Linked DNA regions of Homo sapiens: region 1 is linked to region 2. Evidence: fine-mapped expression QTL. Tissue or cell type: testis. Region 2 holds a variant in brackets; the other region holds the start of a gene. All regions are shown on one strand. Distances are between the middles of the regions.

Region 1 (5,477 bases), 450 kb before region 2:
ACACCATAACTATTATTTATCTAACCAATGCTTAGTTTTACTCCCACTTACACTTGTTTTTTGCTCATTATTTCTTCTTCATTTTGGACCATCTCAATTTCCTTTTGCCTAAAGTACATCTTTTCAAATTATTTTAATGAAAGACTGTAGCTAACTCTTATTTTTTTCTGTCTGAAAATGTTTTATTTTGACTTTGTTCTTGAAAAAAAATGTCCATTTGTTATAGAATTTTAAATCAACACTTTAAAACACAAGAATTATGATTTCTTTGCATTCTGGCTTTCATTGTAGCTATTATGTCAACTGACAGCCATTCCTTTGAAGGTCATCTGTCTTTTACTTCTGTGTGCTTTAAAGATTTCATCTTGACATTGTTGATATTCTTGTCTTGGCACTGTTAATTTTCTGTAGTTTGATATAATGTGCCTGGGTATGAATTTCTTTTCATTTATTCTGCCTATTCTTGTAGCTGTGCGGGTTCATCTCTTTCATCAGTTCTAGAAATTCTTGGCTGTGTTTTTTCTTACAAATGTTGTCTCAACTTTATGTTTCTCAGCATTGAAATCTAGATTTCCTTAGATAATATCTTCTTATCACGAATCTTCTCTTTAGTTGCTTTAAATCTGCTGTTAAACCTTTACATTGAGTTTTAATGCTTGTTGTATTTTAGTTTATAGTTCTGTGTTTTCAAGTCTGCCTGTTTGTTTTTATGGTCTTCTACTCTTTATTAATATGTTCAACTCTGTAAACATACTGCCTAATTCTATTCTATGTTGGATTCCAGTATGTGAACGCTCAAAGTGGGCTCATGTTCATAAGGTTTGATTGCTAGCTTTCATAACACTGTTTCTGTTTCTTTTGTATTTTGTGGGTTTTGACTGAGCTTGTATTGTAAACTGTGGGAATTATTAGAGGCCCCAGGTTGTTTTTGCCAAGGAGCACTGCCAACTTATGACCTTTTTAAATGCTCCACCTAAAAGTTTTTTGTGCCATCCAAGTAGAGTGGCCCAAAAATCCATGTGAAGGCTACTTTGGAGATAGCACGCCTCCAGGAAGATTTGTTTGCTGCCTCCCCGTAGCAAGCTTTGAAATAGGTCATTTTACTTGTGTCTTCTGGGTTGTATAGGTAGGTGGGTGGGTGGAAGTGGAGGCAGGGGGCAGAATTATTTCTAGTTCATCCTTAAGATATGGCTGTGGCTTTATACAGGAGATTTTTGAAATAAGACTCTCTCATAAGAAAGGACTTTTCTTTTTCCTGTATCCCTGCTACTCCAATTCCTGCAGTTCTTTTCACAGGTTGAACAGTCTCAAGCTGCATCGGCCTTCATTGTTTACCCACCTTGCTGGCTTCTTATGTTCACTTCATTTTTTGGACTCTTGTATATGTCTTACTGATTTCCTCATTAATAGCACATTGATGCATTTATGCAATTTTAAAGGTATTTTAATAAATTAGCGCATTTAGTCGTTTTCAGCTGGAAAGTTGTCCTAAGTCACTATCCAAAAGGACTTCCTGAGCAGGGCCATGCCTTGCAGTTCTTAGTCCTGTACTGACAGTTGGTAATCAGTAGATTTTTTTTTCATTCAACATAAGTTTAGGTTTCTAAAGTGGAAAGTTTTTTGTATTTTTTTTTCTGTAAAAAAAATGCTTTATGGGCTGCGTGCGGTGGCTCACCCCTGTAATCCCAGCACTTTGGGAGGCCAGAGCGGGTAGATCACAAGGTCAGGAGATCGAGACCATCCTGGTCAACATGGTGAAACCCTGTCTCTACTAAAATACAAAAAATTAACCAGGTGTGGTGACAGGCACCTGTAATCCCAGCTACTCAGGAGGCTGAGGCAGGAGAATCGCTTGAACCTGGAAGGCAGAGGTTGCAGTGAGCCAAGATTGCGCCATTGCACTCTAGCCTGGCAACAGAGTGAGACTCCATCTCAAAAAAAAAAAAAAAAAAAGCTTTATGAATGCTAGATTTTTTTTTATAATTCGAACTGAAAACAAGGCACAAAAACTTGCAGAATTTTTTTCCTTCGACCTAATTATTATACACCCTTAGCTCAATGACTTTTAGAACCGCATGTCTTGCCTTTTTCTCCCTCCTGAACTTACATATTTCTGAGTCCCTACCCTTTTTAAGTCTACTTTATGAATGCAAGATATTTTTATATTTTTGTATTTTATATATTTTATATTATTTATATTTTTTGTATTTTATATTTTGAACTGCAAACAAGGCACAAACCTGCAGGTCTTGTCTATGTCCTCCAAATCACAGGCACTGCCAAGAGCATAGTGATTGTTGGGATTTAAAGGAATAAATTTCGTTTTTTGGCTTTATTGGTATACTTGGACAATAAAAGTCATGTGAACAATGTCAAATGTAAAGTTTAAAATAAATCATTCTTGTTCATGGAGATTAGTTTTGTTTTTTAGATCTTTTTACATTTTAATCTCCCCAAAATCACATATTTAGATATGAACATTTTGCCAAAAGAGGGCAGTATTCGCCTACAGTAGAATGTAAAGGGACTGAAACATTTCTGCAGAGACAAGGATGAACTTATTTTCCTCTTAAGATTGGTCTACTAGTCTGATCATCTGGGATTGACCATGCAAGTTTTAATTTGTTTTCTATTACTTTTATGGATTTAAAACATTTTTGTTTGAAAATGTTAGTCTTTAAAGATAAAGCCAAAAATCTGTTTAAAAATACCTGCTTACAGAATGACCAAAAAGTAGATGTTTTCATATTTATTAAGTTTTCAGACACGTCCTCAACGAGGTGCTGCTCACTTCAGGGAAAGATGGCCAGTTCAAACTGCTGATGAAAAGTCTGCAACCAGCAAGACCACTGCTGCCAGTGTGTCCTGAGGGAGCTTGCATCTGTTTGACTTTACATATACATACTTAGGTTTGTCCATCAGTTGTATCCTCTTGAAGGAGGTATGTGAGTTCATGGTTTTAAGCATATAAATTTAAACGTTAAAAGAAGAAATCAGAAGTAGCCCGTTTGAGTCTTACATGAGTGAAATGTGTTGGGTTTCAGCAGCAGAATATATAGAAGGAAATGAAACAATTTTTATTAAAGAGCATAGTTTGGAATAAAGAAAGAATATGTGCACCTAGATGAACGAATTAGAACTCTGCCTGCCCTTTAGGGTTTGGTAATGTTACCAGATAAAAAAGAAGAAAAGCTGTTCTGCATTGTTTCAATACATTCTTAATCAACTTGGGCTTCAAGAGGACAGCTGGAGGCTAAGAGGTCGGGTTTTTCATCAAATGCGCAGTGGAAGTAATTTTGGAAAAGTTTGTTTGCATTATGCTGCCTAAAACACGGTGTTTTAGAAAGAGGCTTTTGCATTGAAAAGCTTCTCGTCCTCGCCTCTGGGAGTCTAGTGCTTCCTAGAGCTGCTTGTGCCCTCAGCCCTGTAATGTGATATCCCTCCTCCTGGATTGGTCAGAGGGGTGTCCTTTCCCTGGGAGCTGCTTTCCACCACGGCTCCCAAACTTGGCTCAGTCCAGCAGCCACCATCACCACCACTGCGGTTGCTGCTGCAGCTGCAGCTGCTGCTCTCCCTCCGGCTGCTTCTTCGCGTGGCCAGCAGCGAATGGAGCGATGGAGCCCAGACTGTTCTGCTGGACCACTCTCTTTCTCCTGGCCGGGTGGTGCCTGCCAGGGTTGCCCTGCCCCAGCCGGTGCCTTTGCTTTAAGAGCACCGTCCGCTGCATGCACTTGATGCTGGACCACATTCCTCAGGTACCACAGCAGACCACAGTTCTGTAAGTTCACATAAATTCCCCAGAAACCCTCTTCCCCAATGCTTCATTGCTTCTCTGCTAGGACCTGTGTCCTTTTAATTTACGATTCCTAATGCTCTCCCTGCTTGTATACTTAGAAGAGGCTTTTCACTTTTCAAACAATTTCATGGTTCTGCTCTGTTAGACTAGAAAATGTAAGCAATGATGAGTTGACATAAATATATTTGTTTTGGATTCAGTTCTCTTCCAGCATCTTCCAGAACTTAGCATTGAGAATTCTCGTCTTCATTCTTCCTTCAATAATTTTCCTGCATACTTTCTCAATTTATTCCTATTCATCCTCTACTCCCAAGTCTTTGGGCCTCTTAATTGGTCAGCACGTGTCTGCCCCATTTGGAAGGAACTAATTTAACTTTAGAGTGTGGTTTCAATTGATTATGTGCTGACAAATTGTTAGGCTTTGTACTGTGTGTACCTCCTGGGAGGGTGAAGTCCTGAGCCCTCAGCACTTGAAGCACTGTCTGTCTCCAGAACAGACCCTCAAATGGTCCAGTAGAGTTCTTGAATGCTTAAAAGCCTTGTGGAGCAGCCGCTTAGACTAATCGGCATCTAGGAGGCATTACGGGATAGTAGGGCAAACCAGAATTTGGAAGTCAAACAGGTCTGAGTTCAAATCCTATCTTCTCATCTTTAATATTCAGATAATAAACCCAAACATTTAGATTTATTTAGATTAAATTAAGTCATAATTAGATAATTAGAAGGGCAAATCACCACAAAAGAAGAAAAGGATCTGTTTCTAGGGTCTATTTTTAAAGAAAGAAAAAGACGACAAATTCAAAAATTTAAGAAAAAATAAAAGAAGAAAAGGAAAAATGCTGAAAGATGCAGACTAAAGAGGTTTCCTGCTCTATAATAAATATTTTGTGGGTTGTGTCATGTTCATGGAAGACAAAACTGCTTGCAGTGTTTCAAGTCCATTCTTGGGCAGAGGGAAATAGCTTAAAATTCCTGGAATTTTGAGATATAAATGTTTAAGAGGATCATTGCCACACATTTGTCAGTCATAATCGTGAAATGAGGACTTGGTAATAAAAAGTCCAATTTGATGGTATTTACATAGAAAATGACATATTATCCATAGATTTTCATTTCTATAAAGCATTTCATTAATTTTATATGCATGCAGATATCAAAATACGTCTTACTGTAATAACTGAAAGGATTCTTGAACTTGGGAGCACTGCTTATTGCTATGTGGACAGCACAGTTCTGCAAGTGCCTTCAGACTCAGAACCAGCCATTTGTCCTTTTGTAATGACAGTTTTTTGGTAGATAGCAGCAAAGCCTTGGAGAAGGGGCTGCTTGTCTAATGAAGTATCTTGGAGCTACATGAGGTACAACTCGACCTAAATTTTGTTTCCTAGGTGTTTCAAAGAAGAGATTAGCTTGCATTAGACACACACCTCTAAATGTAATGAGCAGAACTGAAGTGATGTTGTCAGTGTTGTCATGCAGAGCCTTCCACTATGTTTAAAAATAAAGCTTAATGGTGGATTCTCAGGCCCTTGGCTAGATTCCTGTCTGGGAGTCTGGTGCCACCACTTACAAAATGTGTTGCCTTGGACAAATTCTTAACTTCTTGGTGTCACAGTTTCCTAATCTGTAAAAATGGAGATGCTAACAGTGTTTGATATGGTTTGGATCTGTGTCCCCACCC
Region 2 (5,000 bases):
GTCAGGACGGAAGACAGCTGTGAGGAGGATGCCTGGAGGATACAACCCTTCCCAGAATAGCCAGGAGGCAAAACTGGGCCAGGGAAGAACGGGTCATGTTGGGCTTGATTCTGGCTGGTAGCTGCTGTTCTAGGAACTGAGAACTTTGCCCCAGGCCTCACTATGGCCATCTGTCCAGATCACTGAATCCAGACTCTCAAAACCAAACCGTAAGCTCACAGTCAAATCAAACAAGTACCTACTTATATTTAACTGACAATTTTGAAACCATATTTTGCCAACAATTTAAAAACTAGTTTTATTTACCAAATTTTATCACATACACTTAACATATATAGTACACATATGAACACAGAAGCAGATCTTCTAGTTTTCATAAAGCTAGCTTATAAATAATTTTTCCTTTCTCTCTTTAGACTATCCCTCTTTCAATCACATGCTTCATTGCCCTAAGCAACTGCCAGCCAGGCAATTCCAAATCTGTACTTCTAAAGGGCCAACTCCCAGGCCAAACAAGAAAATCTGTATTTCAACAGCACAGAGCTAAGACTTTAGACCTAAATATTGTATCATCAGCTCAAACCAAAAAAAAAGTAGTGGAAGTAAAAGTTCAGTTAAGACAAGATAGTCTGAAAAGCACTTTAAAAAAGGTTTGACTTGTTATGTAAATTGAAAACAATGGCAAGAGTTTCTAATGTACATAGGCAGATATCCTTAAAAATGGAGATTTCCTTTATAAATGTAGGTTTTTTTACAAAAAGGTTTAAAGATAGCCAGTTAGATTCCAGAAAGGCATATTTTAGTTCCATGGGTGTTCTTTTTAACTTAGCTACTATTTCTTAGCTAAAATTACTGAGTTCAGCATGGAGCCCATTAAGGAATAGAGCAAAGAAAGCATTTTCCATGACTGGATTCAGCATGGATTGCTGTGAGAAAGAAGCAAGCCTACTTTACCGGAGGTCTTATCTTTTGTAAACACTTTAGGATAGCTTTCTTTTTGCCTTTGGGGCAGAATAATAACTAAACCAAAATGTTAACAGATATTTTCTTATCAATTAGTCACTTAAACTTTTTATTTGCCATTTGTAAAAAGTCTCTTTTAAAAAACAGTAAAGATATTAAAATCTTTTTAGAAGCTTTTGCCTATCAATAGGCATCCCTAGTTAAGACTAATTTAAGAATTCTCATTTTCTTTTTCTTTTCTTTTCTTTTTTTTTTTTTTTTTTTTTTTTTTTTGAGATGGAATCTCACTCTGTTGCCCAGGCTGGTGTGCAGTGGCAAGACCTGCGGTTCAAGTAATTCTCCTGCCTCAGCCTCCCAAGTAGCTGGGACTACAGGTGTCCACTATCACTCCTGCCTAATTTTTGTATTTTTAGTAGAGATGGGGTTTCACCATGTTAGCCAGGCTGGTCTCAAACTCCTGACCTTAAGTAATCCACCTGCCTTGGCCTCTCAAAGTGCTGAGATTACAGGCGTGAGCCACTGCACCTAGCCAGGAATTCTCATTTTCAGATGCACTGCTTAAAGTGTGGTATTATTCATTTGGAACATTGCATTCTAATTTTAAATTACCTTTAGTAAGATTTTACCACTTCTATAAGTGTTTGCTGCTTCCAGAGTCTGATATTTATACATGCAAATGTAGGCATAGCTGGAAGGTGGATTATTCAGTTCTTTAGAAACTAAGGATCTCCTTTTTACCTTACATCTTGGCTTTGGCTATCAGATCTCCTTGATCAACTTAGTCAATGATTTTTTTTCTACCTGAGCAACCAAAAAGAGAAAAGTGCAAGGAAGGGGTAGAACACAAAAATCCCTGTGAATTTGCAAAAGCTGAAATTTATACCTTCTGCAATATTTCCATTTATTATCAGTTTCTGTCTGACTGGGTCAGACATAAGAGGCCTCTAACTGGATCCAAGCCAGTTAATATCAGATCCAACGTGATTCTGCATCCAGTCCAGTTTCTGTTGTGTTTTCTGAACCCAGTTCAGATAAAAAAATTTGCTCAAACTCAGAGAGCTAAAAACAAATCCGTGGAGCTTTGGAATCTGAGAGAGAATACCATGATCCCCAGTTGCTGTGAGAAAGCAGTGGCCACAGTGGGCCTGGCAGGGATCTCACTTGGTCACATGTTGCTTCTGGGCATCGGAGGAAGTTCTACTTCAGGTCCCACTTCTGACACCATCTGTTAAAAGAAAAACCTTATGCAAATTTAACTGAGTAAAGAATGATTTGTGAATTAAGAAGACTCCTGAGCCAGAGTAGGCTCAGAGACTCCAGCACAGCCATGTGGTGGAAGAAGATTTACGGACAGAAAAAGAGAACTGATGTACAGAAAACAGAAGTGAGGTACAGAAACAGCCAGATTGGTTCCAGACCAGCATTTGCATTATTGAACACAGTTTGAAAGAGTTGGCTGCCTTTGATTGGCCAAAACTTAGCGATTGACACAAGAGTAGACTACAGTCTGTTTACACATCCAGTTAGGTTACAGTTCACTATGTCTGGAAAAACATTTAGGCTGAACTTAAAATATGTAAGGAAGTAGCTTTGG[TC/C]TAAACCTAATTTAACAACATGCGTATGTATGTGTGTATATAACTGTGTACGTGGATAGGTATGTGTATGCATGAGTGTGTACACATATGGGTGTGTGCATGTGTAGTTGTGTACATATATACATGTGTATGCATAAACATGTACATGTAGATGTATGTATTGTATAGGCATGTATAGCTATGTGCACGTATGATACATGCATGTTTAAGTTATGCATATGTACATGTATAGTCATATGCATGAATAGGTATTGTATGTATAGGCATGTACAGGTGTGTATATGCAGATGTGTGTACATGTGTAAGCATGCACATGTATGGGTGTATGCATGTTTGAGTGTATGCATGCATAGATGTGTACACATATGGGTATGTACATGCATATTTGTATACATGTATGGGTATGTTTATATGTGTACACAAAAGTGTATACGTGAATGGTTGTATACATGCATGTATAGGTATATACGTGTCTGGGATACACATGAGTAAGTGTACACATGTATAGGTGTGTGCATATATATAGGTGGAAAATGCTTGCCTTTACTACTCATTGCTTTTTTTTTTTTTTTTGCTTTTCTCTTTTCCTAAAGTGGCCTATCAAGTAATGCTTTCAAATTGAGTACTTGTGTAAAGTATTCTACAAATGGCATTTTGTACTCAAGTATCTTTTTCCCGCTGAACAGTGAAGAGCATCTTACTTGCATAGGATTCCTGGACTGTGGTCTTTCCCATTCTTTGCCAGTGTTCCTTTCCTGATTTCTAGTTTCTTATATTGCAATTGGATGGATAGGTGCGATAGGTGCCAGTCTGGATTTTTTTTCCCCTGCTTAAATAGGGTTCTCTAATGCTTTTTTAATGGGATTCCGTAAGATCTTTTGTTCAGAATTAGAGCAGAATATGCTTAGATGTAACTTTCCTTATCAATCCAGTGTCAAACTTAGGGAACAATTTCAATTCATAGATTTGCATATTTCTTCAACAAGGGGAAATTTATACATATATTTCCTTATTTACTGTATATATCTGTACGTGTCCTCCAAATATTTTTTTTTCCTTCTGAAACGTTCTTTATTTGAGCATTAGGTCTACCCTCCAAATCTCTTTTCTTTTCCTTCATATTACTCTCTTTTATATTTTTGCTAAATGCTCTGATATATTTTTTGCCCATGACCACTTATATCAAATTCACTAATCAGTCTCAACAGAGATCAACCTCCTTTTAAATTTATCTATTTAACTTCTTAGTTCCAACATCATCTGATCATCTGTTTAAGTTTTATGACATCATTTTCTGCAGCATTGGAAATGCCCTGTTTGTATTATTATTATTTATTATTGTTACTATTTTAAACAGATGTTCTTTTGTCATCTCTGTCTCTTGGGTCATGTTTTCACTGAGAAAGTGGCTCCTCTCTCTGATAACTATTCGGGACCCTTTCATGGACAGTGACTTTTTTTATCTTGGCTCAAGTTGTCAAGTTTATCTCCATGGCAGAAACCTAGCAGAAGGAGACAGGTTCACTGGGCTGGGCTATGACATCAGCCTCCCGTAGGCTAAAGCAGGAAGACAACCCACTTATTCAGTTCATTCTTGGCTTTCTGAGAAGTGGAGACACACTGCACACTCTGAGGGCAGAAGCTCTCGGCCAGAAATCTGAACATGAAGCCCTTTCAGAGGTAAGCTGCTCTGAGTCCTCAGTTGAGCAGGGCTGGGCGTGGTTCCCCCAGGCCTGCAGCCTTTAGGAGGATTGTGTGCTGCATTTTTCCCCAGGGTTCCCCTGTCCTCTCAAGCACACTGTGGCCTCTATATTCCTATGCCACTTGCCCAGGGGAGGCCTGTCCCCTGGGGTTGTGGGGGAGGGGAAGAAGGCCCATCTTTGGGGTGCTCATCTTCAGGGCACCGTGCTCCCAAATCCCTGTGAGCTCATTGTCCGCGTGCTGCAATGAGCGTCCTGTGATGAGGACCTCATGCTGGGGCCAGGCGAGACCATTCCTCTTGTCTTTGGTTGAGGTACATGCTGATCAAGGCCTGAGCTCTTCAGGGAGAGCACAGGCATGTGAGCTTTCCTGTCTGACAGCATTAATCAGCATATTTGGTTTTTCAAGGTCACAGAAGACCCTGTTTAATCATTTTTTTACACACTATTATGGGGGCCAGGAATGTACCGACACAAGGTCTGAGAAAACCAGTTTTGATCTGAAACCAAGGGGTGACCTGGAATTCAGTTCTAAAACACTGATTTCTTTGAAGACGAAAAAGCTCTTAGAAGGATCCTCAGGATTATCGTAAGTAAAAAGCAAAACTGGTACTACCTGTTTACTGTTTCAGCTAGCCCCCTCCTGTCTTTTAGCCTGGGAAGAGAGAAGATGAAATCCCATGGGCTCTGAGCCCACATCATCTGAGAATCTATTTCATTTAAAGATAATTCATTAGGTTTC

Alleles and levels. Positions count from the first base shown, and alleles are read on the strand shown. Sizes are in standard deviations (SD) of each study's normalised expression.
With allele TC in place of C in region 2, the expression in testis of the gene that starts at base 3,514 in region 1 is higher (moderate effect, 0.70 SD a copy in GTEx).

The links. PIP is the estimated chance that this variant, and not a neighbour inherited with it, causes the effect.
Region 1: it holds the start of PXDNL, and the variant in region 2 is fine-mapped to the expression of PXDNL in testis (GTEx, PIP above 0.99).

The regions. Positions count from the first base shown.
Region 1 is chr8:51,807,482-51,812,958 of GRCh38, reverse strand. It overlaps PXDNL (peroxidasin like), which reads left to right and starts at 3,514. Exons shown (of 23, transcript NM_144651.5): 1 at 3,514-3,778. The coding sequence starts at 3,615. RefSeq lists enhancers at 3,097-3,618, 3,619-4,141.
Region 2 is chr8:51,358,174-51,363,173 of GRCh38, reverse strand. The region is part of intron 19 of PXDNL (peroxidasin like); the gene reads left to right. Among named protein-coding and RNA genes, the nearest start is that of PXDNL, 450 kb to the left of the region's middle. The variant TC/C (reference allele first, on the strand shown) is at 2,558.